4 linked regions of the Homo sapiens genome follow. The protein of the gene in region 2 purifies or fractionates together with the protein of the main gene of each other region. This does not show direct contact. Each region holds a gene or a part of one and is shown on either strand. Other genes may lie near its edges. The genes, in order: RHEB, SPATA19, RSPRY1 and VDAC3.

The links.
Region 1: the proteins of SPATA19 (region 2) and RHEB purify together in Homo sapiens (affinity purification with mass spectrometry; 2 studies listed by BioGRID and IntAct, with this or other methods). This does not show direct contact.
Region 3: the proteins of SPATA19 (region 2) and RSPRY1 purify together in Homo sapiens (affinity purification with mass spectrometry; 2 studies listed by BioGRID and IntAct, with this or other methods). This does not show direct contact.
Region 4: the proteins of SPATA19 (region 2) and VDAC3 purify together in Homo sapiens (affinity purification with mass spectrometry; 2 studies listed by BioGRID and IntAct, with this or other methods). This does not show direct contact.

The regions. Positions count from the first base shown.
Region 1 is NC_000007.14:151,488,259-151,496,718, reverse strand, and holds part of RHEB (GTP-binding protein Rheb), read left to right. Parts: intron 1-5,704; coding exon 5,705-5,776; intron 5,777-8,460. UniProt on the Homo sapiens protein: Small GTPase that acts as an allosteric activator of the canonical mTORC1 complex, an evolutionarily conserved central nutrient sensor that stimulates anabolic reactions and macromolecule biosynthesis to promote cellular biomass generation and growth.
Region 2 is NC_000011.10:133,841,764-133,850,226, reverse strand, and holds the start of SPATA19 (spermatogenesis-associated protein 19, mitochondrial precursor), read left to right. Parts: upstream 1-4,713; 5' UTR 4,714-4,780; coding exon 4,781-4,858; intron 4,859-5,036; coding exon 5,037-5,093; intron 5,094-5,586; coding exon 5,587-5,718; intron 5,719-5,889; coding exon 5,890-5,981; intron 5,982-7,664; coding exon 7,665-7,742; intron 7,743-8,121; coding exon 8,122-8,188; 3' UTR 8,189-8,197; intron 8,198-8,463.
Region 3 is NC_000016.10:57,203,329-57,210,328, forward strand, and holds part of RSPRY1 (RING finger and SPRY domain-containing protein 1 isoform 1 precursor), read left to right. Parts: intron 1-1,175; 5' UTR 1,176-1,330; coding exon 1,331-1,680; coding exon of another isoform or gene 1,681-1,684; exon of another isoform or gene 1,685-2,053; intron 2,054-4,264; coding exon of another isoform or gene 4,265-4,357; intron 4,358-4,729; coding exon 4,730-4,782; intron 4,783-5,746; coding exon 5,747-5,859; intron 5,860-7,000.
Region 4 is NC_000008.11:42,394,251-42,402,710, forward strand, and holds part of VDAC3 (non-selective voltage-gated ion channel VDAC3), read left to right. Parts: coding exon 1-28; coding exon of another isoform or gene 29-60; intron 61-833; coding exon 834-883; intron 884-2,427; coding exon of another isoform or gene 2,428-2,430; intron 2,431-4,461; coding exon 4,462-4,614; intron 4,615-5,400; coding exon 5,401-5,453; intron 5,454-7,537; coding exon 7,538-7,765; intron 7,766-8,460. UniProt on the Homo sapiens protein: Non-selective voltage-gated ion channel that mediates the transport of anions and cations through the mitochondrion outer membrane and plasma membrane.

The sequences.
Region 1 (8,460 bases), on a different chromosome or scaffold from region 2:
TTACAAAAGAGTAGTGGAAGATTTGTCTTGGGGCTTATACTGTATAGGGAAGAAAGAAACCTGGTGGAGATTGGAGATTCAAGGTCATGGTTTAGTATATTTCTAACCTTTTCGTCTGTAGCCACCTTAGTAAGAAACACATTTTACATTGTGACCCAGTAATAAATGTATGTATAACTGAGATAGAAGGTTCATAACACCTTTCTTGTTTGCAGTCCATGCTGGGATTCCTATTTCTTAAAAAAAAAAATAGTATGGGTCATGGCTCAGTATATTGACTTCATGAATAGTTAGGCCACACCACTGATTTGAAAGCATTGCTGGTAGAGATGGTTTGGATTAGATGATGAGAATCAGAAAGGGAGACCACTGGGGAATACTGTGTATTGATTGATAGGTGGGAAGAAGGGCAGGTGCCAGAGGAACAGCAGTCTGGGTGGTGACCAGGCACTTCTTGGTGTGCTCAGGAGGTGGGTTGCTGAAGTTGCATGGAGAGGATTACTGGTGCAAAGGCCAGTGGGCTTTCAGGCCCACTGTTAGCTTGTGTCCATGGTCATCAAAGCCCCTTAAAGTTATGTTGTGAATTTGAGGTGGTGAAAGCAGCCCTGGAATGGGTTGTGTCCTAGATGCATTACATCGGTTCTAATGGACTCCCCCTTCTGCAGAATGCCTTGATAGACTAGTTAATAGATTGAAAATCTGGTCTTCCCCATCATATCCCAATGAACAAGCAATGTATAAACTGGGAAAATGCTGGGCTTGTAGGGAGTCGGTGGGAGGGGGGACAGACCGTGGCTGGAGTGCAGTGGCACGCTCAACGCACACTGCAGCCTCAACCCTTCGGCTCAAGCGATCCTCCTACATCAGCTTCTTGAGTAACTGAGACTATATGCACACATCACCACACTCAGCTAATTTTTATATTTTTTTTGTAGAGATAGGGTTTTATCACGTTGTCCAGGCTGGTCTCAAACTCCTGGGGTCAAGCAATCCACCGGCCTCAGCCTCCCAGAGTGCTGGGATTACAGGCATGAGCCACCACACCGGGCTAATAAGTTATTTTTTAGGAGAATAAGCATGATAACAAAGTCAATATTAATCTGAAAACTTAAAATAATTCTGTAAACAGTGCCTATTTTGCAGTAATCATGAGGTATAAGATTGAGTCAACACCCCTGAAAGTACACCTTCTGTAGTGAAAATACCAGCTGAGAAACTCACTGTGCCATTTTATCATTGGAAAAAATAATACAATGCTGTTCCCTGATAAAAGCTCAGAAGAATTTTTTAAAATAATTTTTATTTTTAAAAGTTAAGGTGGGTTTTGGTTTGGAGGAAGAGTATTTGACAGTTAATTGTAGGAATTGAGATACTGCCTTTTAAACCATTTATAGTAATTTATGTCATTAAATGAGTGATTTGTGTTTGAGGATAAACACACATCTGAGTATGGGCTACTTTTCCATTTATTTGGGATCACTCCTGTGTAGTTTTCATGTAACATTTTTCCAAAGAGTTGATCTGGAGTGTGAGATTATCTTCAGCAAGCGAGTAACAGTGTTTCCAGACCTGAATTTGCTAAGGACAAAAGCCAAAGTAAATATATGAAGTTATTGAGAGAAAAAGGTTAAAGGTGATCACAGTAGAGATCACCAATGCCTTTTTGTGGTTGCAAACAAACTAGAAAAACCTAACCAAAAGATCTGAACTACGTCTCCAGAAGACACTCCTTAAAGCCAGAAATTACAACTGGAACTGAGAACACTTGAAAATGAGCGGTGGGGTTTATTTATGAAGATTCATTAGCATTTAATGCTGACTTGTCAAGATTTCAACACTAGTTAATAATAGCACTTTTTAATGGAAATGGCAAAAAACAGCATGTTAGCAAATATAGCCTTCCTATCCCTTCTGGATTAGTTAAATAATTAATGACCTCACCTTGGCGGGAGAGCCCCAGGGAGGAGAGACCCAAGGGAAACGTAGTTTTTCTCCAGTGCCACTTCTGCTAATGAACAGTACCTTTCTCCTAGGGCCAGTCTGATTGAAAATCCAGTTTCCACCCTGGAGGAATACGTTTTAAATTCTGGTATCCCAGTTTACTATTCATGAAAACAACAGTTGGCTGTCAACCTGCGATGTGATTTTGGTTAGACTACATTGTCTGTTACCGGAATGATTACTTATGTTTTCAAGTGAAATGTTAATTTAGCCTGTCAAATAGTGTATGCCCATTGTGATACAAATAAGGAGCTCTTCTCTCACTCCGTTTTTGCACTTGATCTCATGCTGTCTTGTTTAATGTGTGTAACTTTCTTTTCTGTTCAAATGTGGCTTCCTGAATTTCACGGGAAACTCCTGAGGCTCTTTTCCCCCGTCCCTTCACTCCCGCAAGTCAGGTTGTCGAGACTTGGCCAGTGCCAGTTCAGAGGACTGTCTGATCCAGGGGTTCCTGGTTGCCCAGTGCTTGGGGAGCTTATCCCATGTATCATACTTAGCCCCTCTTTCACTATTTTTAGTCCAGTTCTACTACACAAAATGTTGCAAAAATCTTTTTAATTATATTATTTCCTTTTTTCTTTGTAACTCTTGCCCATATCTTTAGGGAGAAAATGATCGCTTTCTTTCCTTTCTTTCCATTTGTAAGCAAAACAAAAACCCCACAAACCCTTATCCTACCCACATAAGGGTATAAAAAGCCCACTGGAGTCCTTAGAAGTACCTTGCAAAAGCCCTTAAGAAGTTTGTTCCCTTCTTTCTTTCTAATTAAATTTCATTTCTTTAAGCAGTAGCATTCAGTGTAAATAACAGTTTGTTTTTTTTTTACTCCTTCTAATTTTTCAGTTTCAATAACATGAGAGGAGTTTTCTTCTTGCTATTTTTGTTACCTGAAGTAGTTCTGCTGTATTTTGAGTTAAATTCTCCTTTACAGGCTAGCATATATAACATGGTTTCTTTTCAACACAATTCATTTTAAATTTGTGGAATTCTTAAACTATTGTATTCCTATATCACAGGCAAGCCTGTGATTAGGTACCAATAAATACTAATTGAATTGTTTCTTAATTTCTGTTGAACTGTGTTTTGTATTTCATTTGTATAAAATTGAGATCTTTTGTAGTATCTAAATGGCTAAGAGTGACCTTTGGAGATCTACGCTTTAATTTCGTTCATTTGTTCAGAAATCTCAATGTTTACAATGTGTCGGCTGGCCCTGTGCTGGCTTCAGTGGAGTGTTCACTAAATGAATATCATTCCAAATAACTTAATAAAACAGTAGCTATGAGAATGACTTTTAAGGAATGGGTACTACCTTAGGGTGGTCTTGAAGGTTTCTCTGTGAAACTAACATTTGAGCTCAGATCAGAATGACAAAGATGAGTCATATATTCAGAGATGGGGGCAGTGGGGGTTGCTAGAGTAAAGGGGCCAAGGCAGGCAGGAACTCCAGGAGCAGAAGGGATGTGACTGGAGCCTCAGGATGGGTTGTCGGGGGCTGTTGGCGGATGAGGTCAGAGTGGTAACCAGAGCAGGGATGGCCTGGTGTTTGTGGGCCACGGTTAGAAGCTGGGAATTTAGGGCAGGCGCGGTGGCTCACGCCTGTCATCCCAGCACTTTGGGAGGCCGAGGCGGGTGGATCATGAGGTCAGGAGTTCGAGACCAGCCTGACCAATGTGGTGAAACCCTGTCTCTACTAAAAATACAAAAAAAATTAGTCAGGTGTGGTGGCGCGTGCCTGTAATCCCAGCTACTCAGGAGGGCTGAGGCAGGAGAATCGCCTCAACCCGGGAGGCAGAGGTTGCAGTGAGCCAAGATTGCACCACTGCACTCCAGCCTGGGTGACACAGCAAGACTCCGTCTCAAAAAAAAAAAAAAAAAATGTTGAGAATTTATTCTAATTGCAATGAGGATTGGAAGCAGAGAAGTAGCGTTTAATTTTCAAATGCTCATGTAGGTTGCTTTGTAGAGAATAATTTCAGGTATTAGTAATTCTAGAGACATTTTGAACTGTATTGGGCTGCGGATAAGGAGTAAATAGGTCTACCAACTTGTGGCCTTTCCTTCTCAGCAACCCCTACTTTTTTTCTTTTTTTTTTTTTATAAGACAGAGTCTCACTCTGTTGCCCAGAGTGGAGTGCAGTGGCGCCATCTCAGCTCACTGCAACCTCCGCCTCCTGGGTTCAAACTATCCTCCTGCCTCAGCCTCCTGAGTAGCTGGGATCGCAGGTGCCCATCACCACGCTTGGGTAACTTTTTTTGTATTTTTAGTAGAGACAGGACCAACCATGTTGGCCAGGCTGGTCTCGAACTCCAGACCTCAGGTGATCCACCCGCTTCAGCCTCCCAAAGTGCTGGAATTACAAGCATGAGCCACCACACCCGGCCAGCAACCACTACTTTTAAGCCAACTTTTTAATAATTTAAATTTTAAGGAATGCCTTTGGTGTGAAAACATTGTGCAACTATACCTATCCATAGTTTGGAGGAGAAACAAGCATAAATTAAACCCAGTAGTGTAAGATGGGTGTTACCATGCCTCTCCTTCACTCTCACTGCACGTCCTGTTGTGATGGAGTTAAGTATGCCAGGCATATACAGCATGTGTGTAATAATGCTCCAAGGATGCAAGAGAGAAGGAAGGGTTTGGAGGTGAAATTAGGGAGAGACCACTTCCTCATTCCTGGTGATAAAGTCATCTGAACTATGCATCTCATGCGATTTCTTCACAGGGCATGTACCCTGTTCTAAAGTCCTCCAGTAGACATTTTAGGTAGCAGAAGAGTGAGAAGCTAAGGCTCTAGTTGTTGATTTATTAACATACAAGTTCAATTATTGGCGATTTTGTGAAATCCATAACATTTCTTAATTTCTAGATACTGCTAGGCCTTTCATACTGAATGACATAGGATTTCTAGCTTCAAAGGAGTTTTTAAGATAAAGACTTATGTTACATATTTTCAGATTACCCTTTTTTTTTTTTTGACACAGGGTCTTGCTCTGTCGCCCAGGCTTGAGTGCAGTGGTGCAATCTTGGCCCACTGCAGCCTCTGCCTCCTGGGGGCAAGCAATTCTATTATCTCAGCCTCCCAAGTAGCTGGGATTACAGGTGCCCGCCACCACACCCAGCTAATTTTTGTTAATTTTAGTAGAGACGGGATTTCGCCATGTTGGCCAGGCTGGTCTCAAACTCCTGACCTCAGGTGATCCGTCTGCCTCAGCCTCCCAAAGTGCTGGGATTACAGGCGTGAGCCATGGTGCCTGGCCGGATTACTCTTTTTAAAAGCTGTACTTGGTAACACTTCTAACCGTCATATATGAATGAATACAACGAAACTAATCATTTTAATTTTCATATTAAAATTAAATAGCAAGATTCCAAGAATACTAGAGGAAATTAGCTTACTTTAAACCTTTTAGATTATCTTTAACAGAATATCTGATGTGCTTGTTGGTCAGTAATATTTGTTAATGTCACAGACATGTTTACTTTGTAATAGCTTAATTGCATAATATCCTCATATAAAGCAAATTAATGAAATTTATTTCATTTTTTGAAATTGCTCACATGCTAATTAAATGAATGTTTTCTGACCCTGATACCTTCAGTGTCTTCATCTATTAATGGTTTTTTAATAAAACAGCAAAATTAAAAATTTTTACCTTCATATGCCAACACACACTAAGCTCTTGTTCTCTTTTATAGGGAAATCCTCATTGACGATTCAATTTGTTGAAGGCCAATTTGTGGACTCCTACGATCCAACCATAGAAAACAGTAAGTATTGTTTTCAAGTACTTAAAAACTGAGAAGCCTTCTTTTGTGTAAAATAGCCATTGTGTATTCATGGAGGCTTTGAGTGCAGGAGGTAAATTCTGTGTGTCTCCCAATTGGGGTCAAAGAAAACTTGCAAAAGATTTACCTACTTTACCCTGAAAGATTTTTCCTTCCATGTCTGCATCCCCTGCCATCTAGAAATTATTAATTCAAGTCAGTAGGAGTCTGGCCCATTACTGGAATCTTCAAATTCCAGAATCTGCTCCAAAACAGGAATGGAGAGCACAGTCTTCTCCCCCACACCCCCTTTCTCCCAGCCATTGCAGTTTCCAGGGATTCCAAGCTTGAAAGAATGAAAAACACTCGAGATCCCTGTTCCTTATTCTTACAGAAGCCGTACTCCCACCCACATTTCTCTATACCCTTCTTTCCAGCCCTAAAGATTTGAAAGAGAAATGAACTATTCTGGGATTGGATAGAGCAGTTGCAGCATTAAAAAGAAGTTGGCTCAAAAAGCCTGTTGACATTTTAGGCCATGTGCAGAAAAAAGCAGGGAAGACAGAACCAGCCATGACCTTTACTTTGTTCAATTTTAATCCATGGTTTCAGAATATTCCTGATGGATTCTAGGACCATGAGACTATTTATTTATTTTATTTTATTTTTTAAAGAGACATGAGTCTCACAGTGTTACCCAGGCTGGACTCAATATCCTGGACTCAAGTGATCCTCTTTCCTCAGCCTCCCAGGTGGCTGGAACTACAGGCATACAACACTGTGCCCAGCTTTGAGACAGATCTTGATTCTAGGGATCGCCAAGGATAATCTGAAGCAGGGAAGCTGGTCTTTTCAGGCTTAGAACCCCAGGTGGGCCCTGGAACTAGGTTTCTCAGATTCTTGAGACCAGGACTTATCTAGGATTTGTCACCAGGAACATGTAGATTTAAACATGGGATTCATCAACACCTGATTGGCATATTAGACACGAAGCATATTTCACCGGCCGGAGGCTTGCAAGAGAATCACTTGAATGCTTTGGCTGACAGTAAAGAGCTTGGCAAACGACAGCCTGCAGGCCAGCAAGGCCCATTTCCTGTCTTTATACAGACCAAGAGCTAAGAAAGGTTTTTCCATTTAAGCATAATATATAAAAGTCCAAAGAAGAATAATGTCTGGCATGTGAAAATTATATGAAATTCAAATGTTAACCTCTATAAAGTTTTATTGATACACAGCCATGCTTGTTCCTTTACATGTTGTCCTTTACATGCTGTACAATGGCAGAGTTGTTGAATAGTAAGAGCAGAGACCAGGTGGCCTACAAAGCCTAAAATATTTACTGGTACTGTCTGGCCCTTTACAGAAAAAGTTTGCTCACCCCTCGCTTAAAATATTTGGCTGTCCTTTGTGTTCCAGTGTGCTGGTAGCAGAGAAGGAAACCTGTTGGTTGATAAACTAACTCCAGGAATATTTTTGAAAGTAACCTTTCAAGATGTTATATTTGAAAGTAACCTCTGGGTATCTACAGGGAGGAGTCCTGATTACATCCTATGATTTGTCTAGCTGGTCATTATATAATAGTAAGCAAGTGTGAGGAGCAGATTAATGTGAGTGCTGGATGAACAAGCTCGGTTTTCTGTCCACTGGAATAAGAACATAAGAAAATCATCATCTTGGACCTTAATATTTGCTATACAAAGCAATTTAGGATTTTAGATCCTTGAAATAATAAGGTTCATTTTGGAATTGTATTAACAGAACAATAGAAGATTGTTTTCTTCGTAAGCTCTGCCTCTAAAAGTGGATATTGTGGCTGTATCCTCATGCCATTTCATACTGAGCTGGAATTAGCTGGGCGTGATGGTGTGTGCCTGTAGTCTCAGCTGAGACAGGCGGATCACTTGAACCCAGGAGTTTGAGGCTGCAGTGATCTGTAATCATGTCACTGTACTCCAGCCTGGGCAGCAGAGCAAGATGTGGTCTCAAAAGTAAAAACTGAGTTGGAAGGAAAGTCATGGAGTTGTGTATCATGGAGCTATATATACATACATTTTCTTAGTAAGTAATGGATCAGAAGAAAGTCCAACTTATGTAACTTGATGTTATCTCAGAAACAGAGTAATATGACCCTACTTTTTTGAGGCTATCAACATCATCTTTGGTCATATTTTAAATTTTTTCTCATCTTACAGTTCAATAATGAAGACTTCTTTACCTCAAAAATGAATTCAGAGTACTTGTTTATTAAAGTCTGTAGGCAGGAGCAGAAATAAATATGAATATGTATCCATTAAAAGTTCGTGAGGCATGTTCAGACATTATATTCTACTTACCACACTTCTGATAACCTAACACAGGGCAGGAGCCCTTCGCCCACCCTTTCCTCCACTGTTTGGTAGAAAAACATTGTTCAGTGATAACAATGAATTAGAAAGAAAAGAAAAGGTTATCATGAACTTGTTGCTAGCAAGATAAATAAGTGGGTGGTTTCATGATTTTAAAAAACTGCTCTGTAGATCTGGAAATAATTTAGTAGTTATTTTACACTTTATAATATTAGAACAAGCTGTTATAGCAAACACTCAGTGGTGACACATTTCAGTGAAGTGTCATGGTGAGCAAAAATTCTGGGACTGTGTCATCTTTAACAGTAGGGGTGTAGGAGAATAATATTAATAAAACCA
Region 2 (8,463 bases):
ACAAAATTAATGTACACAAATCAGTAGGTCTTTTATACACCAAGCGACCAAGCGGAGAATCAAATCAAGAACTCAACCCCTTTTACAATAGCTGCAAAAAATTAAAATACTTAGGAATATACCTAACAAAGGAGTCAAAAGACCTCTACAAGGAAAACTACAAAACGCTGCTGAAAGACATCATAGATGACACCTACAAATGAAAACACATCCCATGCTCATAGATGAGTAGAATCAATATTGTGAAAAATGACCACATTGCCAAAAGCAATCTATGAATTCAATGAAATCTCCATTAAAATACCATAATCATTCTTCAAGAGTTAGAAAAAACAATTCTAAAATTCATATGGAAACAAAAAAGGAGCCCACATAGCCAAAGCAAGACTAAGCAAAAAGAACAAATCTGGAGGCATTACACTACCTGATTTCAAACTATACAGTAATGCCACAGTCACCAAAACAGTGTGGTACTGGTATAAAAATAGGCACATAGGCCAATGGAACAGAATAGGGAACCCAGAAATAAATCCAAATACTTACAGCCAACTGATCTCTGACAAAGCAAACAAAAACATAAAGTGGGGAAAAGATACCCTTTTCAACAAATGGTGCTGGGATAATTGGCTAGCCACATGTAGGAGAATGAAACTGGATCCTCATCTCTCACCTTATACAAAAATCAACTCAAGATGGATTAGGGACTGAAATCTAGGAACTCAAACTATAAAAATTCTAGAAGATAACATTGGAAAAACCCTTCTAGACATTGGCTTAGGCAAGGATTTCATGACCAAGAACCCAAAAGCAAATGCAATAAAAACAAAGATAAATAGCTGGGACCTAATTAAACTAACGTGCTTTTGCAGGGCAAAAGGAACAGTCAGCAGAATAAACAGACAACCCACAGAGTGGGAGAAAATCTTCACAATCTATACGTCTGACAAAGGACTAATATTAAGAATCTACAACAAATTCAAACAATCCCATCAAAAAGTGGGCTAAGGACATGAATAGACAATTCTCAGAAGAAGATACACAAATGGCCAATAAACATATGAAAAAATGCTCAACATCACTAATGCTCAGGGAAATACAAATCAAAACCACAATTCAATACCACCTTACTCCTGCAAGAATGGCCAGAATCAAAAAATCAAAAAACAATAGATGTTGGCATGCATGCGGTGATCAGGGAACACTTCTACACTGCTGGTGGGAATGTAAACTAGCACAGCCGCTGTGGAAAACAGTGTGGAGATTCTTTAAAGAACTAAAAGTGGAACTACCATTTGATCCAGCAATCCCACTACTGGGTACCTACCCAGAGGAAAAAAGTCATTATTCAAAAAAGATACTTGTACACGCATATTTATAGCAGTACAATTCACAACTGCAAAATCGTGGAAGCAACCCAAATGCCCATCAATCAATGAGTGGATAAAGAAACTGTGGTATATATATATATGATAGAATAATATTCAGCCATAAAAAGGAATGAATTAATAGCATTTGCAGTGAACTGGATGAGATTGGAGACTGTTATTCTAAGTGAAGTAACTCAGGAATGAAAAACCAAATATTGCATGTTCTCGCTGATGTGTGGGAGCTAAGCTATGAGGATGCAAAGGCATAAGAATAATACAATGGACTTCGGGGACTTGGGGAGAAAAGTGGGAGGGGGTGAGGGATAAAAGACTACAAATGTGGTGCAGTGTACACTGCTTGGGTGATGGGTGAACCAAAATCTCAGAAGTCACCACTAAAGAACTTACTCATGTAACCAAATACCACCTGTACCGCAACACATATGGAAAGATAAAATTAAAAAATTTAACAACAACAACAACAACACGTTCATTACAGTGTTATTCATAGAAGACCCAAACTGGACACCATTTAAGGTACATCAACTGGTGAATGGACAAACAAAATGTGGTATGTCCATGCAGTGGAATAGTATTATGGGGTAATACCCCATAATAAAAAGGAGTGAATTACTGACACATGCTACAAGGTATGTAGATGACCCTCCCAAACATGCTTGGTGAAATAAGCAAGACATAATACGGTATAGTTCCATATGTATGAAATGTCCAGAAAAGGCACATCTCTAGAGATAGAAAGCAGATTGGTGGGGCTGAGAATGGAAGCCGAGGTTGCCTGCAAATGGGCATGACAAACATTTCTGGAGTGATGGATATGTTCTATAATTGAATAGTTGTGATGGTTGCACAATTCTCTGAATCTACTAAAAATTATTTAATTATACATTATGATGGGTAAATTTTATATTATTTAAATATATCACAATAAAACTGACTAAAAATTAAGAGTTTCTGTTCCTCAGAAGACAGTACTCAAAGAGTGAAAGGCAAGTCATAAATTGAGATAAAATAATTGCAAAACACATATTGATAAAGGACTACTATTTACAATACATTAAAAAATCTACAAATCAATAAGAAAAAGACCAACAATTCAATGAAAGGGCACAAAGCTCGAGGAGGCACTTCACAAAAAAGAATATCCAAAGTGACCAATAGGCAAATAAAAACATGCATGATGCCACTGATAATCGGTTAAATGAAAATTAAAGTATTATTAGTTACCACTACATCTCTACTAGATTGGCTAAATTTAAAGGAGCGACAATACTAAGTGTTGGAAAAAACGTGGAGTAACTGTCACTTTCATACATTGCTTATGGGCAGTAGATTAATACAACCCCTTTGCAGTACTGTTTGGTGTATATGAATGCTACACATATCTAAAGTCTATGACCTAGCAACTCTAATCCTTGGTATATACTCAGAAGATTTAGTGCTTATGTCAACCAAAAGATAGGTACAGTATAAAAATTTTCATAGCAGCATGATTTTAAACAGCATCAAATCAAATATAATACAAATGTCCTACTAAAAATGTTTTCTATCTTGATCTGGGCAGTGGTTAAACAAGTAAGTGTGTGTGTGTGTGTGTGTGTGTGTGTATGTGTGTGTGTGTAAAAATTTTTCTCCGCTGTATGCATATTTGTACATTTTACTGTATGCATTTTATAACATTGTAATCAAAAAGCAAATAGATTTATGTATGAGCTTCATTTTGACAACATAAGCACAGGATATGTCGTCGAGAAACTAATGAAAATTTTACTTCTGAAGTGAGTTAGAACAAGGTTGAAGGTATGGGGAAGAGATGGAACGTCCTTGAATGTATCTGTTCATGTTTTGATTTCTGAATCACATTAATATTTTAAATATTCAAAAATAAAATTACATCAATAAGGATGAAAACATAAATTTTAGGGGATAGCTGTAGAAACAGAGATGTTGACAGGTAATTTCATCTGCTATTTTACAATTTCCAGTCTTCCTTGGAATTAGGTAGGGGCCATAGGACTAGTTCTAGATCAAAAGCTCTAAGTAGGAGCCTCTGAGCTGAAAGGTGGAACACTGACCTGATTCCTCTCTGTGCTCTCTTCCCTGCTTTGGCAGTCATGGAGGTCGTGTCCTCTGAATGTGGACCTGTGAGTCTCCACATGGCACACAATTGCTCTGAAATTACCCAACTTGCACGAGAGCTTTTGAGAGTGAGAAATAAACATTTTGATTTGGAGGTTGGTTTGTTGCCTCAGTCCTCAGCAGAGCCTAGCCGATTCTGACTATGTCAGGGATGATATAAAATTGAGGCGAATTGTTGAGAGGGAAGACGTGTAGTGGCTGTATCAGGGGAATTGGAGAAAGTGATAAAAGGTTTTCTATAATCCTGAGAAGAATAAACGTGGGAAAATTTTTGGAATATTAGAGTTAGAAGAAAGCTAGGGACACAACTCTATCCCTTTCAGTATAAGACAAAGAAACTCAGACCAGAGGGACTAATGATTAGGTCAAGAGCACATGACAAGTTGTTGCGGGACAGGTTGTTACTGGTGGAGGGTGTTCAGGTTCTTGGCGTCTTAAACAAAGAAATGGACAAAACACACAAACGAAGGAAAGAATGAAGTAACAAAGGCAGAGATTTAACGAAAATAAAAGTACACTCCACAGGATGGGAGCAGACTGGTTACAGAATTTTCTGGGGTTTAAATACCCTCTAGGGGTTTCCCATTGGTTACTTGGTATATACCCTATGTAAATGAAGTAGTGGCTCATGATCAGTCTGATTGGTTGCGGAAAGTGACCAATCAGAGGCTGAAGTGAAGTTATAAAGTTATATCTCTATGCAAATGAAGACCTGGCCCACAACCAGCCTGATTGTGGGAGGGGAGCAATCAGAGATACTTTCAGTTTTTCATCTGCCATGCAGAAAAGGAGAGGGTTGCAAAGGGCGTAGCCTCTGGTCTTTTTGTTACTTGGGCACGGAAAGTTGGGGTTTTCCTTTTGATTTAGTTCTAGGAAGTCAGTGTAAATCGGCCTTAGGTTTCCTGGCTCCAGACCCCATCCTCCTGCCTGGAGGTGAGCTCCCAAATTAGTGCTTTCCCAAGAAAAGAATTCAAGGGTCAGCCAATGGTGTTAGACAGCAATCTTTTATTCAATGGTTCTGCTCCTTGAAGCAGGGTAACTCATAGGAGTGCACCCAGAGCCTGAAATGCAGGGGCTCTTGGCAACGGCATTTATACTCACATACATCATTTTCAAAGGGAGGCCATTGTCACATCACCATGGGTCAGCCAATCAGGTGGACACCTCCCTTCAATGACCTTCCTGTCCCATAGGAGTTCTCAGGCAGCTTCAATGGAAGGAGGGAGCCAAGAAGGGGGCCTGGTATACATTCAAAGATGATAATTACGACATGGATTGTGTATATTCTTGCTCGGAAAGGTGTAGGGCTTCCCTTCCTACCAATAACCAGTTCGGTAAGCAGCTTGGTGGTAGTCACATGGAATAATTTTTCATATATCTTCTCCCCCTGTGGGACCCTGCTGCACTTCATAGAGATCTTACAAATAAATTTGAGTAACAGTTGCGGGGGCTGGGTGGGAAGAGCTGAATTTCTAGGTTTTCTGAGGTCACCAACTTGCCAATTTGTTCCAGGACATTGACGTTGTGGAAAGTGAGGCTGTGTCTGTACTACATCATTGGTTGAAAAAAGTGAGTAAGATTTCTTTATGACTCAGGATATCCAAAATGCTAGAGAAGTGGTCTCAGTGGGTGTGGGGATCTGGACTTCCTTCTTCATGGAACTGGAACTCAAGTTCATTGCCAGACACCCTTCCTAGATTTGAGTCTAATTTCTTCACATGTGCTGGAGGACACTGTGGCTTGTGTCCTGGCAGGAAATGTGTTAGCACCACCACTAACGCCGTCCTGCTTCTCAAGCATCCTGGCTTAAGGGTTTCAGCTGCATCCTTCCCAGCTCAAGGGTGTCTCAGGAACACCTTGGGATAGGGCCAGGGACTTAGGGAGTTCTGAGGACTTTACAGGGAAGTAGCTTATTGTGGGAACAGTGAGGTAAGGAGTGTATGTGTGTGAATATGTGGTGTGTGAGTTGTGATGGAGAATGAATAAAAGGAAAGGAAGAGGAGAAGAAGACCCAGGGTTGGATGCAGAGTGACATTTTCAGAGGGAATTTCTCACCTTTCAGACAGAAGAAGAGGCTTCTCGGGGCATAAAGGAAAAGCTGTCCATCAACCACCCTTCCCAGGGTGTAAGGGAGAAGATGTCCACTGACTCCCCTCCCACCCATGGCCAGGACATCCACGTGACCAGAGATGTGGTAAATGAGAGTTTGAGACCTTGCCTGGGAGTAGCGGTGAGGGAGAGGGGAGAGGTGGGAGGTGCACCGTAAATGATTCTGGGCAAGGGTGAGGTGCTCGTCTGGGCTCTGTGCCAGCCCAGTTGGGGGCCACACTGGGCAGGAATCACATGGACCCTCTGGATTTCCCAGGTGAAGCACCACCTCTCTAAGTCTGATTTGTTGGCAAACCAGAGCCAAGAGGTCCTAGAGGAGAGAACACGAATCCAGTTCATAAGATGGAGGTAAGGTGTCCCACTTGCCCTGGGCGAAGGAAGGGGAGGGAGAGATGCGCAAGCCCCTCTCTTCACGAACCCTCAGATGCTCTTCTCTAGAGATGTCGTCTTTGGCTGACAAATTCCTCAGCCTTGCTTTGGGGTCTTAAGGGAATATCCTTGCTATCTTGAAAGCCCAGCTCATTTCTACATTTTTAAATGACTTGAGGGGTTGGAAAACTGGGCTTGCACTCCATTTCTTAAATGCTTCTGAATACATTTCAGATTTCTGTTATTTTTGCACTTGAGTTGCTCAGAAGTGGCTGCACTTTAAAGAGCTAAAAGAAAATAAGCTCTTAAAATGCAAAAGCCAAAGTTTTCATCTGCAACTGAGGTGTGGGGAGGCTTCCCAGCGCCCGAGGCTAGAATTCTGCACTCGGTTATGGTGGCTTCGCCAGCGTCCCGGGTGCCTGCCAGCTCACAGCCGTCCCCACTGCCTCTCGTGGCTCTGCAGATGCTGAGCCCCGAGGCCCAGGGAGCTGGCCTGAAGCCATCATGCTTCAGACAGAGGCTTTCCTATTTCCTTTCCTGCACCTGTGTTCACTGGGGGTCTCTGGAGCACATCAGCCACCCCTTCCCAGGAGAGGGACTGAGGGCTTAGACTGGTCCTACGGGAACCTGAAGGAGACTTCTCCCCTTCCTCCTCTCTTCCTCCTTTCCCTGCCGCATCATCGATGTTGATCTGTTGTATCAAGGAGGCTCCATTTCTCAAGAAACGGTTTCCATGTGCTTACCCCTTCTAGTGGCATCTGCCTTTTAGGAAGACTCAAATGCACAGTAATTTCATAACCAAAAGGAATAACATGGTGGGATCTGAGAGCTCCCTGGGAAAGAGTTTTTTTGGATGGGAAGCCTTCTGAGGCCCCTAAAATCATAAATGTTGTTGATTATAATCCAGGCTTTTCTGTGCCTGACGTGGTTGTGCTATGGAATTGCGGACATTGTGCTCCTTGGTTTGGATAACACACACATCATCTTCCAATATTTTAAAAATCTCGTCTGTATAAAAAAACTAGTTTTAAGCTTTTCAGACAGGCTACAGGAATCAGTCAATTATTTACATATAATTTTTCCACTCTGGATTTTCTACAAAGATTTTAAACCAAAAGCCTCCGCCTATCTCCCCCCACAACCCACTGGTTTTGGTGTCCCCCTCTTATTTCAGTAAGTATATAGTCAGGAAATATATATATCCCTTTATGAAACAAAGCAAGGAGGCTCCCCAGGGGACCCCACAGCTTCCTCGCTGTAGGCTTTCCTAGAAGCATCTCTGAACCACAGTGGGTGTGGGGTGATGCAGGTCATCAAGAGCTGATGATAGGAGAGGAATTCAGAAGACTGAATTCAGAAGGGTGAATTCCACGGCTCACGAGACCACTGCTTGCTGCCTTTAGTAAGGGCACTCAGCTCTGTGTCCCTGGCTCTCCCCGGGACAGTCTGCTACCTGTTCAGCATTACTGGGGGCTCAAGGGTACCTGGTTAGTAAAAAAAAGCTTTGTGCTCATGAGTCAAGAAGGGGGAGAGACCAGCTCAAAAGTTCATGGTGTCAGGGCAAGAGTCATTGTTTGCAGGATCCCATCTCTAGCAGCTCTCTATGCCTGTTAAGAAAGAAACTCAGATCCCATATGCCAATGTACGAATGGCCTTTTGCAGCCACACTCGTATCTTCCAAGTGCCAAGTGAGATGACAGAGGACATCATGCGAGATCGAATAGAGCAGGTGAGACGAAGGTAAGCTGTTTGGAACTGCTTGATTTGTGTTCCTGACTGGGGGCAGGTAGGGTGGGGGTGACTGCTGGGTTTCCCGCCCACACCCAGCAATGCTATCTCTGGTATGCCAACATCAAGAGCAGAGACACACAGTTCCCAGGGCTGCGTCTTGTCTTCTGTGCTCCACATGACAGGGCTTTGCCAGCCTCCCATGGTGTCTGCCAGTGCACAGAAGGGCTTCAGGCTGTGGGCCTGTTCATATGACTGTGCTCCCAGGCCCAGTGTGGCCACGGCCTAGGCACGGCCTGCCCTCCCACCGCAGCCCCTGTGCCGTGGTCTGGGTAGGCTCTGCTATCAGGCAGCCTCCCTCCACCTGGCCCTTCTCCTCTGTCCCCTGCAGCATATCCCGTCTTACAGATGTCTCAGCTCAGGACTTCAGTATGAGACCCTCCTCCTCAGACTGCTGAGAGCAACAGGTGAGAGAGCTGACGGATGAGGAACTGGGCAGAGAAGATGGTTATCCTGGGCAGTGGGAAGGGGCACTGCAGCTGGGAACTTGGTAAAGAGGCTTAGCTTTTCCCTACTGGGGAAGGGCCTGCACTCAGGGCCAGTAGTGGGAGAGGAGGGCTGGCTGCCTTAGGCTCCCGCAACGCCTCTCTTAAGTTTGTGGAAGGACTTGAAGTCAAATTTGATTGGTTTCCTGACTCTGTGGTGTCAGAGAGCACTGCCTCTCCATCATTCA
Region 3 (7,000 bases), on a different chromosome or scaffold from region 2:
GAGTAATATTTCTCTTCTAATTCCACTGAATTATAAATTTTGTTTATATTATTCCTGGTCAGTGCTCAAGGTATGAGGAATTAATTGTAACTAGCCAGATGTTGTGTAGAGACTACACACTAGCATAGTCTATTCCTTATGTGGCCTGTTCTCCAGCTGTCAGCCTGTTTTGTTTGTTTGTTTGTTTTTTTACTTTTTGCTACCAGCCCATGTAAGTCTCCTATTTCTAAATCTTTACTTCCTTCCAGAATCTAACCAGATTTTACCAGCTTCTTGAAGAGCTGGTTCTTTCATTAGGTTTTTAATGATAAACATACTTTGTGGGATGAGAATGGCCATCCATGAATTCCTGGAGGGCAGGAACTATTCCTTACTCATCTTTATTCTCCTAGTCCAGCGTGGTACCTGGCACAAGGTCCTTAGTCAGTATTTTCAGGCAAAGATAAATTGGTGCATCTTATTCTGAACTTTGTAATAGACATGTGCAACAAACTGATCATTGTGAAAATACAACTTTTGTGATATCAGTTTTCCTTTCCCAAAACAAAGCCTTGCTTACATAACAGAAACACTTTGCAACAACTTGTATGAATTCTGTCAGTTCTTGAGTGAGCTTCCAATGGGAAACTCTATCCTTTTATTCTCCTTGATATCAAATGGTGCTATCATATTTGTATCATAACTTTTTTTTAACAACAAACGTCTGTAATTATTTTATTTAAAACTTGTTAAATTATCCTATGGGTTTAAAGAAAGGAGTTAATTCATTTTTTTAAAGATTTTTCTCTTTTTAACACCTACCTCTTACACAGAAAGACAACTCTTTTTTTATGATAAAAGGAGCCCTTGAAAAAAAATGCACACATCCTTCTAATGTATTTCTATATAGACAGGAAAAACTATACATGTGGTTTTAAAAAAATCAATGATAACTCCTCTGGTCTATAAGAATATGGTTTGGCAATCAACTTTGTAACAGAATGATAAAAAGAAATTATTGATTGATTGCGAATTCTGTTATCCAAAGCTATCTCTTTGTATTGGAAACCTATAAAAATAACCAAAGATAATTCTTCATTAGAATCCTAATATCTATAAAATCAGACTAGGAAAATTTGAGTAATTAAGTGGTCAAGAATCTTTTATTCATTTTCCTTTTTCTCATTTTCTTTTAGAACTGCCATTGGATGTCCAGAATCCCCTGTAGTTGATAATGTTGGGAATAAGCTCTGCAACTTTCTTTGGCATTCAGTTGTTAAAAACAAATAGGATGCAAATTCCTCAACTCCAGGTTATGAAAACAGTACTTGGAAAACTGAAAACTACCTAAATGATCGTCTTTGGTTGGGCCGTGTTCTTAGCGAGCAGAAGCCTTGGCCAGGGTCTGTTGTTGACTCTCGAAGAGCACATAGCCCACTTCCTAGGGACTGGAGGTGCCGCTACTACCATGGGTAATTCCTGTATCTGCCGAGATGACAGTGGAACAGATGACAGTGTTGACACCCAACAGCAACAGGCCGAGAACAGTGCAGTACCCACTGCTGACACAAGGAGCCAACCACGGGACCCTGTTCGGCCACCAAGGAGGGGCCGAGGACCTCATGAGCCAAGGAGAAAGAAACAAAATGTGGATGGGCTAGTGTTGGACACACTGGCAGTAATACGGACTCTTGTAGATAAGTAAGTATCTGACTCACGGTCACCTCCAGTGGAATGAAAAGTGTTCTGCCCGGAACCATGACTTTAGGACTCCTTCAGTTCCTTTAGGACATACTCGCCAAGCCTTGTGCTCACAGGGCAAAGGAGAATATTTTAATGCTCCGCTGATGGCAGAGTAAATGATAAGATTTGATGTTTTTGCTTGCTGTCATCTACTTTGTCTGGAAATGTCTAAATGTTTCTGTAGCAGAAAACACGATAAAGCTATGATCTTTATTAGAGAATAGAGTAAATATGGAGTGAGTTTATGTTGCTAGCTACAATAGGAAATGGTTTCATGAAGGCTCACTGTTAATGGTACATGCCTGTCTATTCCACTGACCTCAGATTCAAGGTAAGTTGTTTTACCAAGAACATGGCTACAGGCAACTTCTCTTGGCAACATAAGGACTAAGGTCAAGGAGAGTTTTCATTATCCTTTATTTGATCCTTTATCCCTTATTTGACTATCTTTAATCCATTTAGGAAGCTTGTCAGTTGATACTGCAAGGCACACCTGTACCTGTTTTGTCTTTTCCTCTGCTTTGTCTACCTCTAAATACAAAATCATAGATTGAATAACAGTGAAATTAAAGGGCATCCAAGTAGAAAAAAACATTTAACTTAAGGTTGTATATTTCAGTAGTTAAGAGCACAAAGCTTAGAACCATGATGGGCCTAGCTCAAGTTCTGGCCCAGTGCCTTACTAACTGCATGACATTGGGTAAGTTACTTCTTGAAGCCTCAGATTCCTCATCTGTAAATGGGGGGATAATATTGTTCCCACAAGGATTATCATGAGATAATGTACATAAGGCATTCAGTGTGGAGCTTTGTACTTAACAGTTGCTCAGTAGATGGTAGTATTTTTTAAAAAGTTACTTATGTGTTCTTTTTGCTTCAGGCCCTGCTAGTAAATTTAAGTATATAAACATTTGATAATCGCATTTATAGAAACCCAGTTTCGTTTAGTTCCTCAAAAATTAAGCATAAAACAGAGTGTACCTGTGAATACAAACGAATTTTTAGAGCTGTATTAAACTTTTCCATAAAATACTGGAGCATTTGTTAGTCTTCGAGAAGAATAATTTTTTGGCCAGACACAATGGCTCATACCTGTAATTCCAACACTTTTGAGAGGCTGAGGTAGAAAGATAGCTGGAGGCCAGGAGTTCAAGACCAGCCTAGGCAACATAGGGAGATCCCATCTCTGCAAAAAAAATTTAAAAATTATCCAGGTACAGTGGCACTTGCCTGTGATCCCAGCTACTCAGGATTCTAAGACCGGAGTACTGCTAGAGTCCAGGAGTTTCCAGCTGCAGTGAGCTATGATCACACCACTGCACTCCAGCCTGGGCAATAGAGCAAGACCCTGTCTCAAAAATTAATTAATCAAAAAAAATTTTTTAAATCCCTTGTACCAAATTGTAATAAAAGTTATCCTTCCCAAATAAGGAAGTAAACCACAAACAATGTTAATTTAAGCTCATTGGAAAAATGGGTGCAGAATAGACTTTGAGAGAGAGAGTTTTTTTGTTTTGTTTTGTTTTTAAAGAGACAGGGTCTCACTTTGTCACCCAGGCTGGCGTACAGTGGCGTGATCATGACTCACTGCAGCCTCAGCCTCCTGGACTCAAACCATCCTCCCACCTCAGCCTCCTAAGTAGCTTGGACTACAGGCGTGTGCTACTGCACCTGGCTAATTTTTAAAAAAGTTTTTGTAGAGCCAGGTCTTGCCATGTTGCCCAGGCTGGTCTCAAATACCTGGACTCAAGCGATTGTCGAGCTTCAGCCTCCTTAAGTGCTGGGATTGCAGATGTGAGCCCCCACGCTTGGCCCCTTGCAATATTTTAAAAGAGAGTGACATAGTTATACAAACCTCTTTGTTTTTAACTTTTCTCAACATCGAAATCTGTGTTACTGTATATAAATCTACAACTGCTTCTGACTATTACAGAGTATTCCCTTGTATGCCTGAAAGTATTATATTTTGTTACATTTTCATCTGGTGATGGTCACTTAGGTTACTGCCAAATTTTTGTTCTTACAAACAGCACTGCAGTGAACAGCGCAAATATGCATTGATTTTTGGACCTGTGTAAAAATTTATCTACAACTGTTGGGTATATGCATACTTAATTTTATTATTGCCAGATCATTCTTCAGAAATACTTGCATCAGTCAATTATATTGTTTAAACAGGCAGCACCTAATGAGTACCTGAAATGACCATACTAATTCCCATATCACAAGGTTATTCTCTGGATTAAATGACTTAAGATGATAGTTTTTGGGGCTTTTTTTTTTTCCACACTAAAACAGAGACCCACAATATGTAAACAAATAAGTGGTGAGTTCTTAAGCAGTTAGAATTGTTTAATGGAAAACATCTCATTATTGAAGTTCCCCTGAAGGACTTTTTAAAGATTTCTGGGATCACACCACTGAATTAAGGTGTATAATGCCACTTTGGAGCAATGTCTAGAATGTTAAGTAGTTCCTTAAGTTTGGTTTTGTTTCTTGTAATACCATTTTATGAAGTCTAAGCATGTAGTGGTATTTCCAGAAGAAAACTTCAAAATGAAGATGCGTATATAGGCCCTTGCTTCCATAAGTCCTCAACCGGGATTGTCGTCTCTCTTCCTGGCATTTCTCTGAGGTAAGTATGAAGGTGATGTTGACCTTCCTGGCTTGTCTCAGTTGGCACTGGGCCTCTGAGTGTAAAGCTGAGAGTAGGCTGTGATCTCCAGTTTTACTCCTGTGCTTTTACCCCAGGACACATAGTAGTCTTTGTCTGTATCCACCTGCCCATTTTGTCTGTGGGTCATTGTGGACAGTGACTGGAAATGAGCACATATGGTATACATTCATCCTTACAGGTCATAGCTCAGGTTGTCTCTTCTATCTCTTTCCTTACATTTGTGTTCATTTCTTCTGTCCCTTTTTACCTCCACACCTCCAGTTTGAATTCTTATTTGGAATTGTCATTTATTATTTCCTCAGGTTTAATGCCTTGAATTTTTTTTTCCAGTGATCAGGAACCTCCCTATTCAATGATAACATTACACGAAATGGCAGAAACAGGTATTTTTAGTTTTGTTTTCATTACTTTATAATGAATATATAATAATGAAGAAAAGTAGCCACCTTTTGTTTTTTGTTTTGTTTTGTTTTGAGATAAAAGACTCCAAAAATACAGCATACATAACAATGAAAAAAGCCCTTACTGTATGGAAATTTCCCTGAATAGGTATAATAGGCAATGCATATTATACCTTTTTTTTTTTTTTTTTTTTTTTGGCATTGATGGATCTTTCACCATACTGTTCTGGAATGGAGAGGAGATTATTTATATATATATATATATATATATATTTTTTTTTTTTTTTGAGACAGAGTCTCACTCTGTTGCCCAGGCTGGAGTGCAGTGGCACGATCACAGCTCAACTACAGCCTCAACCTACCCTGGCCCAGGTGATCACCCCACCTCAGCTTCTCAAGTAGCTAGCACCACAGGCGCATGCCACAATACCCAGCAATTTTTCTGTTGTTTGTAGAGACAGAATTTCACCATGTTGGCCCAGCCTGGTCTTGTACTCCTGGGCTCAAGGGATCCTCCTGCCTCAGCCTCCCAAAGTGCTGGGATTACAGGTGTGAGCCACAGCCCCTGGCCAAAGATATTTTTTGTTCCTTAGTTTCCTAAGTATCATTCTGAAAACAAAGCCAACTGCTGAGTATACTTCATTTTCTCAGTTAACTCCTATGTAGTAAATAAGATGCTTAAAACTATTTTAATGTGAGAGCACAAGACCATAGCTTAACCTTTTTCCAAATAAAGGTACCCACAAATCACCAGACTCCTGTAACTTAAGATGTTTTTACTCCACCACGATGACTAGCAATTGATGATTATGTCCATGCCAAATATTAGCTGCTAAAAATCTATAGACCAAAAGTCTTTCTTTTAATGTGAATTGATCTCGTGTGACATATTTTCACATTTTAAAAATAGTGACTCCATCATATAATCTTCTTGATTTGCTCTTAGATGAAGGATGGTTGGATGTTGTCCAGTCTTTAATTAGAGTTATTCCACTGGAAGATCCACTGGGACCAGCTGTTATAACATTGTTACTAGATGAATGTCCATTGCCCACTAAAGTAAGTTAATACTTATCTTTTATGAAACTATCATTTGTGCTTAAGCACAAGATAAATGACCACAAAGAACATTTGATGTATTGTGTTTCATCTTTATACATTTGGGGTCTGTTTTATTCAGTATTGATTTTGTTATGTAAATTTATTTTGTATTATGAAGAATTATGTCCTCTTTTTTTTTCTTTTCCTCTTTGAGACAAGAGTCTCACTCTGTTGCCCAGGCTGGAGTGCAATGATGTGATCTTGGCTCACTGCAACCTCCGCCTCCCGGGTCCAAGCGATTCTCCTGCCTCAGCCTCCCAAGTAGCTGGGATTACAGGCACCCGCCACCACACCTGGCTGATTTTTGGATTTTTAGTAGAAACGGGATTTCACCATGTTGGCCAGGCTGGTCTTGAACTCCTGACCTCAGGTGATCCACCTGCCTCGGCCTCCTCCCAAAGTGCTGGGACTACAGGCATGAGCCACTGCACCCAGCCCTCTGTCTTTTTATTTATTTATTTTGAAACAGGGTCTCACTTTGTCACCCAGGCTGGCGTGCAGTAGAGCAATCACAGCTCACTGCAGCTGCAACCTCCCTAGGCTCAGGTGATCCTCCCACCTCAGCCTCCCATGTAGCTGGGACCATAGGTGCATGACCCCATGTCTGGCTAATTTTGTATTTTTTTTTAGAGATGGGGTTTCATCATGTTGCCCAGGCTGGTCTTGAAACTCCTGGGCTCAAGCAGTCAGCCCACCTCAGCCTCCCGAAGTGCTGGCATTGTAGGCGTTAGCCACTGTGCCCCGCCACATTCTCTATCAAGGCTTTATTTAATTGCTTTTTTTTCTTCTTTCTTTCTTTCCCTCCCTCCCTCCCTCCCTTCCTCCCTTCCTCCCTTCCTTCCTTCTTTCCTTCCCTTTCCTTCTTGCCTCCCTTCCTTCCCCGGCCCCGCCTAGGCTAGAGTGCAGTGGCACAGTCATGGCTCACTGTATCCTCAACCTCTCAGGTTCAAGTGATCCTCTTGCCTCAGCTTCCCATGTTGCTGGACTACAGGCATGCACCACCACACCTAGCTAAATTTTTTTTATTTTTTGTAGATAAAGGGTCTCACTATGTTGCCCAGGCTGATTTTGAACTCCTGGGCTCAAGGGATCCTCCCAC
Region 4 (8,460 bases), on a different chromosome or scaffold from region 2:
GCTAAGGATGTCTTCAACAAAGGATATGGTAAGTATGCTATTGTAACTTTCCAGTTTGGGGTAAAGGTTAGTGTTGAATGCCTACTGTGTGTAAATACTGTGTTAGTAAAATAAGGGTAAGTCAGCATTATTCCACTTCACAAGATTTAAGGGGATAACTATTAACAGGCTATTAGACCTCATTCTTTAGAGGCAGAACCCCTTACAAGCATTAAAAGCAATTATATACATATACAGATGCATATACATGTCCATATTTAATGTTATCTGGAATGTAGAATAATATATATAACATTTATGTCTCTTTGTCTGGCCCTGAGGACAATTAAATTAGGGGGTAGAACTTTTCCTCCCTCCAAACAGTGGCATTGTTTTTATGAAAGTGACAACATAACTTTTGACTTCTTTGGAGTAATGTATATTCTGATCCTAAATAAATATTTTTTAGGTTTTAAAATTTAACTTAAATTTATGTGCTGTACATATTTGATTTTTTCTTATTAACTAGTAATGTTAACTATATTTTAAACGATATATATAGCAGCACACTATTTTCAGCAATTTTGATTCTTGGAATAGTGCATATTCCTTTCATTTATTTTTTTCTTTAACTTACATTTTAAAAGTATATCTTTATTCATTTTGAGTGCTTGAAAATTATACTGCATTTATTTGGTTATAATTCAGTTTCTTGAGGAACTCTCACCCAATGAAAATACTATGCATTTTTCATATGGAAGGTACTATAGGCTATTTCATAATTTCTGAGTTGCAAAAACTAGTGAATGTCACATTTTGTACATTACTGTGTTTTTGTGTGTGTGTGTGTATAGGCTTTGGCATGGTCAAGATAGACCTGAAAACCAAGTCTTGTAGTGGAGTGGTGAGTATCTAATATATTTTTAATGAATGTAACATAATTAACTTAAAGGAATCTGTTTAAAATCATGACAGTCTAGTTACTTGAACCAGCACCATGCTGTCTTCCCCACAGCTTTGTCCTCTCAGATTTTAAACAGCATTCTTAGCCAATTAAAATAAACAACCAAGTTGAATTTTTGAAGAGACCTTTTGTGTTTCTCAGAGTATACTACAGCTTTCACTCAGAAGATGTAGAATATATATTTTTTGACCCATGTCATATGTTTATACTTTCATGAATATGTATATGGGCACCAAAAACCTCACTTCCATGATAATGGGTTCATGGAAATTTTATTACCCTTTTACAAAAACAAATTAACTTTACTCTGCCCCTTCATGATTAGTCGAAACAAAATATGTAAATAAAATGTATTTCTGCACGTATGCATGTACATTATTCTACAGTTTTTAACTGATGTTTATAAAGTTTTTTTTATTGGAAGTAAAGACTACAGTAAAGGCTATGTTGGCATATTTTCAAAGTATCATTAACAATAGCTTTTGGCTGGGTGCAGCGGCTCACACCTGTAATCCCAGCACTTTGGGAGGCCGAGGTGGGCGGGTCATGAGGTCAGGAGTTCGAGACCAGCCTGGTCAACATTCTGAAACCCCGTCTCTACTAAAAATATACCAAAAATTAGCTGGGTGTGGTGGCACGCACATAGTCCCAGCTACTCGGGAGGCTGAGGCGGGAGAATCTCTTGAACCTGGGAGGTGGAGGTTTCAGTGAGCCGAGACCAAGCCATTGCACTCCAGCCTGGGTGACAGAGTGAGACTTTGTCTTAAAAAAAAAAAAAAAAAGGCCAGGTGCGGTGGCTCACGCCTGTGATCCCAGCACTTTGGGAGGCCAAGGCGGGCGGATCACGAGGTCAGGAGATTGAGACCATCCTGGCTAATATGGTGAAACCCCGTCTCTACTAAAAATACAAAAAAATTAGCCAGACCTGATGACGGGTGCCTGTAGTCCTGGCTACTTGGGAGGCTGAGGCAGGAGAATGGCATGAACCCAGGAGGCAGAGGTTGCAGTGAGCAGAGATCGTGCCACTGTACTCCATCCAGCCTGGGCAACAGTGCAAGACTCCGTCTCAGAAAAAATTGCTTTTATTTAATAAATCTCAGCAAGTAGGTTAAGTTTTAATTTACCTTACTCTGATTTCTCCTCATTGGCTGCATCGTTTTTGGTATTTATCCATTCAAACCCATGAAAATTTTATTTCTGAATGTATAATTAGAAGGACAAAGACATGTGGAATTCTAATGATACTGTGTATAATCATGGTTTGTGACCATCATTCTTTCCCTGGGTTTCTCTGGAGTAAATAAATATATATGCACCTCCCTTACTAAGATGGGCACGCTGTGTATATAGTTCTGTTAAAATAGAAGAATCATTCTCATTTTGTGTAGGTTCCAGAATTTGCTCATTAGGTTTGTGTTGCAAAAATTATCAACTAAAATTTTATCTCCCTTTCATGCTGCTGTTGTGTGGTAATATTCATTCAGATGGTAAGAAAAAAAAGCTTATTCGTATGCTTGTTTTTATGGCTGCTTTTGGTTTCTGGTATTGATTTAGGATAAATTTCAATCATTGTTCCAAATTTCTTAGATTGTGTCTTGATATTTTTCTCATATGCTATCTACTTAACAGTAACATTTTTGTTTGTTTTGTTGCTTACTAAGCATTTAATGTAGAGCTATATGCATGTTATATGCATGTTATAAATGTGTTTTGCACTTGTTTGACCAAATTATGAAATTAGACACAAACTGAACTGTGAATCGTGAGCCTGGAACTCAACTTAGAACAATTCTAGCCTTTTTTTCTGAGATTTGTACCTGTGGCATTTTAGATTCGTGACAGACCTTCAAACTAAGAATTGATGCTGACAAGGGAGAAATGTAGACTACCCCTCTACCTTAATTTTGTGCATAAGGTTTTTCTAGCACCAAAATTAAGATTTGCATTTGTTATACTTGTCAAGTTTGTGAAAAGTAAATGTAAAAAATAAAACACTAGATAGTTGGATCTACTAAAAGAAAAATGATTGTCACGTTAAAATAATTATGTGAACAGTTAAACATGATTAACATGTTATCATTTTTTTTTTACTAAGGCCTTCCCCTAAATGTGCAGCATGATACTCTCTTTGAAACCATTCTGTGTGGTTTGATAAACAGAACATAACTTCCCAGTTGTCTCATCTGCCTGTAGAACTAGAGTTAGGGGACAGGGCATTTGTTAAGGAGAGGATTCATGTTGCAGGCAGTGAAAAAGACTGGTCAGGGTTGGCAGCATCTCATTACTGTTGGCAGGATTTCAGAAATGCTCCCTAAAACAGGACCAATCAGAATGTTTTTTCTTGACAGTTCATAGATTGTCAGTGACAGGTGCTGTCTGCTTTCCCCAGAAGGAGGTCCATTTCTAATTGCTTATTGTCATATGACTTAAAGGGCACTGAACTAGGGCAAAGGATGTATTTTATTTTATTTTATTTTTTTGAGACAGAGTCTCATTCATAGTAACTGTTTGATAGAAAGCACTCTTAAAGGTAGACAGGATAGAAAGGGGGAAAGAAGGATAAATTATAGCATTCTACTTTATTTTGAAAAATGGGTAGTACTTTCAAATATTGAAATTGTCTAAGCAGAAGTTTTGCAGTTTTGCACACAAAAGCATTAAAGTTTTCACAGCAGTGTGACTGTACTTAATGCCACTTCACTGTACACTTAAAACATTATTAAAATGGTAAAATGTATGTTACATGTATTTACCACAATAAAAAAAAACATTTTTAAAAGGAAGTAGTAAAGTGTTGACCCTATTAAAAAGGAGGAGGGCAGTATTTTGGGATTTTTAAGGACCTTGAAATTAACTGATAGTTTGAAACATATAGCAGAGAACTGATAATCTTTTTTTAGGTCATGAAAGTAAAATGTTTAAGATACAATATTTTTGGTCTTTTTAGTAAAGGCATTTGTTTTCAGTAAAGATACTTCTTTTTTAAAGGAGAGAATTTAGGATTACCATTTGGTAAGAGAGTATATGGAACAAGAGATATTAATAAGAGAAGTAGAGTAATGGAAAGATCTGAAACTGGTATTGAGCTGTCTCACTCCGTTGCCCAGGCTAGGGTGAAGTGGCATGATCTCGGCTCACTGCAACCTCTGCCTCCTGGGCTCAGGCTGGGACTACAGTCACGTGCCATCATGCCTGGCTAATTTTTTGTATTTTTTGTAGAGATGGGGTTTTGCCATGTTGCGCAGGCTGGTCTTGAGCTCCTGGACTCAAGGGATCCACCCGCCTTGGCCTCGTAACATGCTGGGATTACAGGCATGAGCCACTGCGCCTGGCAGAACTGGTTAAAATATTTAGGGACTGGAAAAGCAAGGGGAAAGGAGGAAAGAAGTTGCTCTAGAGTAGGGCTGTGGCAAGCAGTAAATGGTATTGTTTTTGATACATTGAACACTGCTTTCCAAAGTGAATATTTTCTATTTGATGAGCTAATTTTAAAGTAATTATTTTTTCTTGCTTACCAGGAATTTTCTACTTCTGGTCATGCTTACACTGATACAGGGAAAGCATCAGGCAACCTAGAAACCAAATATAAGGTCTGTAACTATGGACTTACCTTCACCCAGAAATGGAACACAGACAATACTCTAGGGACAGAAATCTCTTGGGAGAATAAGGTAAGAGAACGCATTAGAAGTTATTCATAGGTTCAATTTATCTTGTAGATTGAATGATGAACATACCCCAAATATAATCAAAAGAGATCTTACAACCTATCTAGTAGCCATATTTTTTCTCTGCATGTGGCCTTTTTTGATGTCTTATGTTTCTAGAAAATAAGGCTTTGTTTGTGAGTACTCTAATTACTATATTACATCTTTGTTCTGACTGGTTCTCTGTTACACAGCTAAGCTTCTCCTGGGTAGAACAAACTATTTGCGGAAATTTGGTTTAGTTTTGTAATTGTTGAAAAATTGGCTTGACAGAAAAATTTTTCTAAAATGTTCTCATGTTTTCAAGGAGAAAATCTATTAGATATAGTCAAGTGCCCACTATGTACAGGGCACTGTTTTTGATAGAGATACCATGTATAGATAATGTACATGCAAAACTGAGTAAAATGACTTAGCCTGCTTGTTAAATGTCAGGTTATCTCATTACTGCTCTTTCAAGAGAGTATCAAGATGATTTTGTTGTATGGGAATTCTGTTTGGTTTTGAACTGTATTTTATGTAACTTGCTAAAATAGGATTTGCCCCATTTTTTAGTGGGAGAACCATGATGAAGGCTGGGGTGAGGGGACAGGAGGATGGAGAGCTTACTTATTACATAATTTAATATTTTGCTTTCTTGAATGACTCCTTTTTTTTGTTAAAGAACTCAGGAAACTTTAGAATTGGTTTCTTGAGTTGGATAAATGATTGAAAATTACTAATTATTTATTTTAAATCTTTGTTTTTCAGTTGGCTGAAGGGTTGAAACTGACTCTTGATACCATATTTGTACCGAACACAGGGTAATTATTCAAATCCCATTTCCTGAAACGTTTTTGGAGCCTGAAAGGGTAGAGAGCTTTAGAATAAGGAGATATAGTGCAAAGTTCAGAGGCAGGAAGAACTCAGAAGGTTGCTATAAGGAATATTGGAGACCTTGTATAGGTAATACAGATAAAGGAAGATCCCTCCCCACCAAGGCAGGATGAACAATTTGAAAACTGAATAGATGAGCAAAAATGTATAAATGTATTTGAGAGAGACACATGGTAGAAAAAATTTAGGAGCTAGAAGAGTCTTGAGACCATAGATGAATCTTAAGCAATTCTGAAGATTGATGGACATGGTATTCTGCTGAGAAAGTTAATTCCTTTTGGCTGGGCGTGGTGGCTCACGCCTGTAATCCTAGCACTTTGGGAGGCCGAGATGGGCGGATCATGAGGTCCGGAGATGGAAACCATCCTGGCTAACACGGTGAAACCCCATCTCTACTAAAAAATACAAAAAATTAGCCAGGCATGGTGGTGGGCGCCTGTAGTCCCAGCTACTCAGGAGGCTGAGGCAGGAGAATGGCATGAACCCAGGAGGCGGAGCTTGCAGTGAGCCGAGATGCACTCCAGCCTGGGCAACAGAGCGAGACTCTGTCTCAAAAAAAAAAAAAAAAGTTAATTCCTTTTTTTTCCCCCTCACCCTCTCTTATGGTGCTGAAAAGTTAATTTCTTAAGAAGGTGATCTGGCTCTCAGATGCTATAATGATTAGTTCTGCTGCCTACTTGATTTCTTAGCCTCTGTAAATCCCCCAACTTCTTGACCTCAATTTCCTCGTGAAAAAAAGGGGGATTGTGTCATTTCCTATCTGCCTAATGTGGGTCCATGCTATCTGAAGGACGGAGGTTGCTAGATGAATGCAAAGTGACATTTGTCTCAGCCGTAACAACAGGTGTGTTCTTTTTGCCACACACTTCAGTTATCTTTAGGACAAATATTCTTTTCTTTTTTTTTTTTTTTTTTTTTTTTGAGATGGAGTCTTGCTGGAGTATAGTGGCACTATCTCAGCTCACTGCAAACTCTGCCTCCTGGGTTCAAGCAATTCTCCTGCCTCAGCCTCCCAAATAGCTGGGACTACAGGCATGCACCACCACGCCCAGCTAATTTTTGTATTTTTAGTAGAGACGGAGTTTTACCACGTTGGGCAGGATGGTCTCTGTCTTGACCTCGTGTTCCGCCTGGCTCGGCCTCCCAAAATGCTGGGCTTACAGGCATGAGCCACTGTGCCCGGCCAGGACAAATATTCCTACAAGAGGCTTGATTGGAATAGGGTTATTAAGAACTAATTTCATTTTTTCAGTATTGTCCTTCAAAAAAGCATGCTTCTCTCCATGATAGGTTAATAATGTATATTGGGGATTAATTCTTTGTGGCATTTGGCATTTGGAAACATTTAAAGAGATTTGGCTTCTTGTACGTCTGTATACATACACCTTCAGATTATTAATTTGGCACTGAAATATCTTATTCATTCTTTTTTTTTCTTTTGAGACGAGTCTCGCTCTGTCGCCAGGCTGGAGTACAGTGGCATGATCTTGGCTCACTGCAACCTCTGCCTCCCAGGTTCAAGTGATTCTCCTGCCTCAGCCTCCCAAGTAGCTGGGACTACAGGCGTGTGCCACCACGCCCAGCTAATTTTTGTATTTTTAGTAGAAACGGGGTTTCACCATGTTGGCCAGGATGGTCTCAATCTCCTGGCCTCGTCATCCGCCCACCTTGGCCTCCCAAAGTGCTGGGATTACAGGTGTGAGCCACCACACCCAGCCTCTTATTCATTCTTATACTTTTGTTCATGCTTTTATGAAATAAATCATGAAGTATCCTATCATTTGAACTTATAATGAGTAATAGATGATAGTAGTCTATACATGTCTAATCCTAACAAAATTATATTTGTAGAACTAGGTCATTTGAAATGTTTTTACTATATATGTGGCATGTACCAAAATAATATTTACATTGGGAGATGAGAGAGAGGATCTTACTCTAAAAATTCCTAGACAGTAGTAAGAACTCATGTTGTTTTCATCATTTGCTTTTGTTTGTTTGTTTATTGCAGAAAGAAGAGTGGGAAATTGAAGGCCTCCTATAAACGGGATTGTTTTAGTGTTGGCAGTAATGTTGATATAGATTTTTCTGGACCAACCATCTATGGCTGGGCTGTGTTGGCCTTCGAAGGGTGGCTTGCTGGCTATCAGATGAGTTTTGACACAGCCAAATCCAAACTGTCACAGAATAATTTCGCCCTGGGTTACAAGGCTGCGGACTTCCAGCTGCACACACATGTGTGAGTGTTTATAATTTATTCCTTAGTATCAGTGCAGTTGCCCAAAATATTGTAGCCATTAGCATGCTGAGAAGTGATGGTACTCAGATTTAGCATGCCTTGGTGAATATCCATCCTTGCGGTGCTATCCTCATAGCAAAACCTTGCCAGGAGGCTGGTGCACGTGGTGTGCAGGCTGTGCTGCTGGTGGTCACTGGCCCCTCAGCCTGCACCCCAAACTTGAGGAAGCTCCAGCCTCTGTAGAAGAACCACTGGGATAGAGGGAGCCCAGAGCATGGCTTACCTCATGGTAAGATGACCCTTTGGAGATGTTACTGCTTCCTCTGCTGCCCTCTCATCTTGACAGTATCTGGAAGCAGGTCTGTTTTGGTCACCAACAACCACCACCAAATTGATCTGAGCATCCTGGGACATCCCGGTAATTCTGTGGAGGTTTCAGGTACTGGTATTCTCGGTTGGAACCCAGGTACCGCTAATGCATTCAGAAGTAACAGGTGCTCTGAAAGAGTCCTGGGATTCAGTTATGTAGGCTGCACCATGTTGGTGGGATGAATCAGAACTTTTACGTAGTATTTTATGTTGAGCCTACTGGACACTGCTACTATACCAGGAAGAAAAAGCAAAGGGCAAACTATGTGTTTTTAAACTGTTGCAGATTCCTCTCTGCTAGATGCTCTAATTTACTTATGATGGCT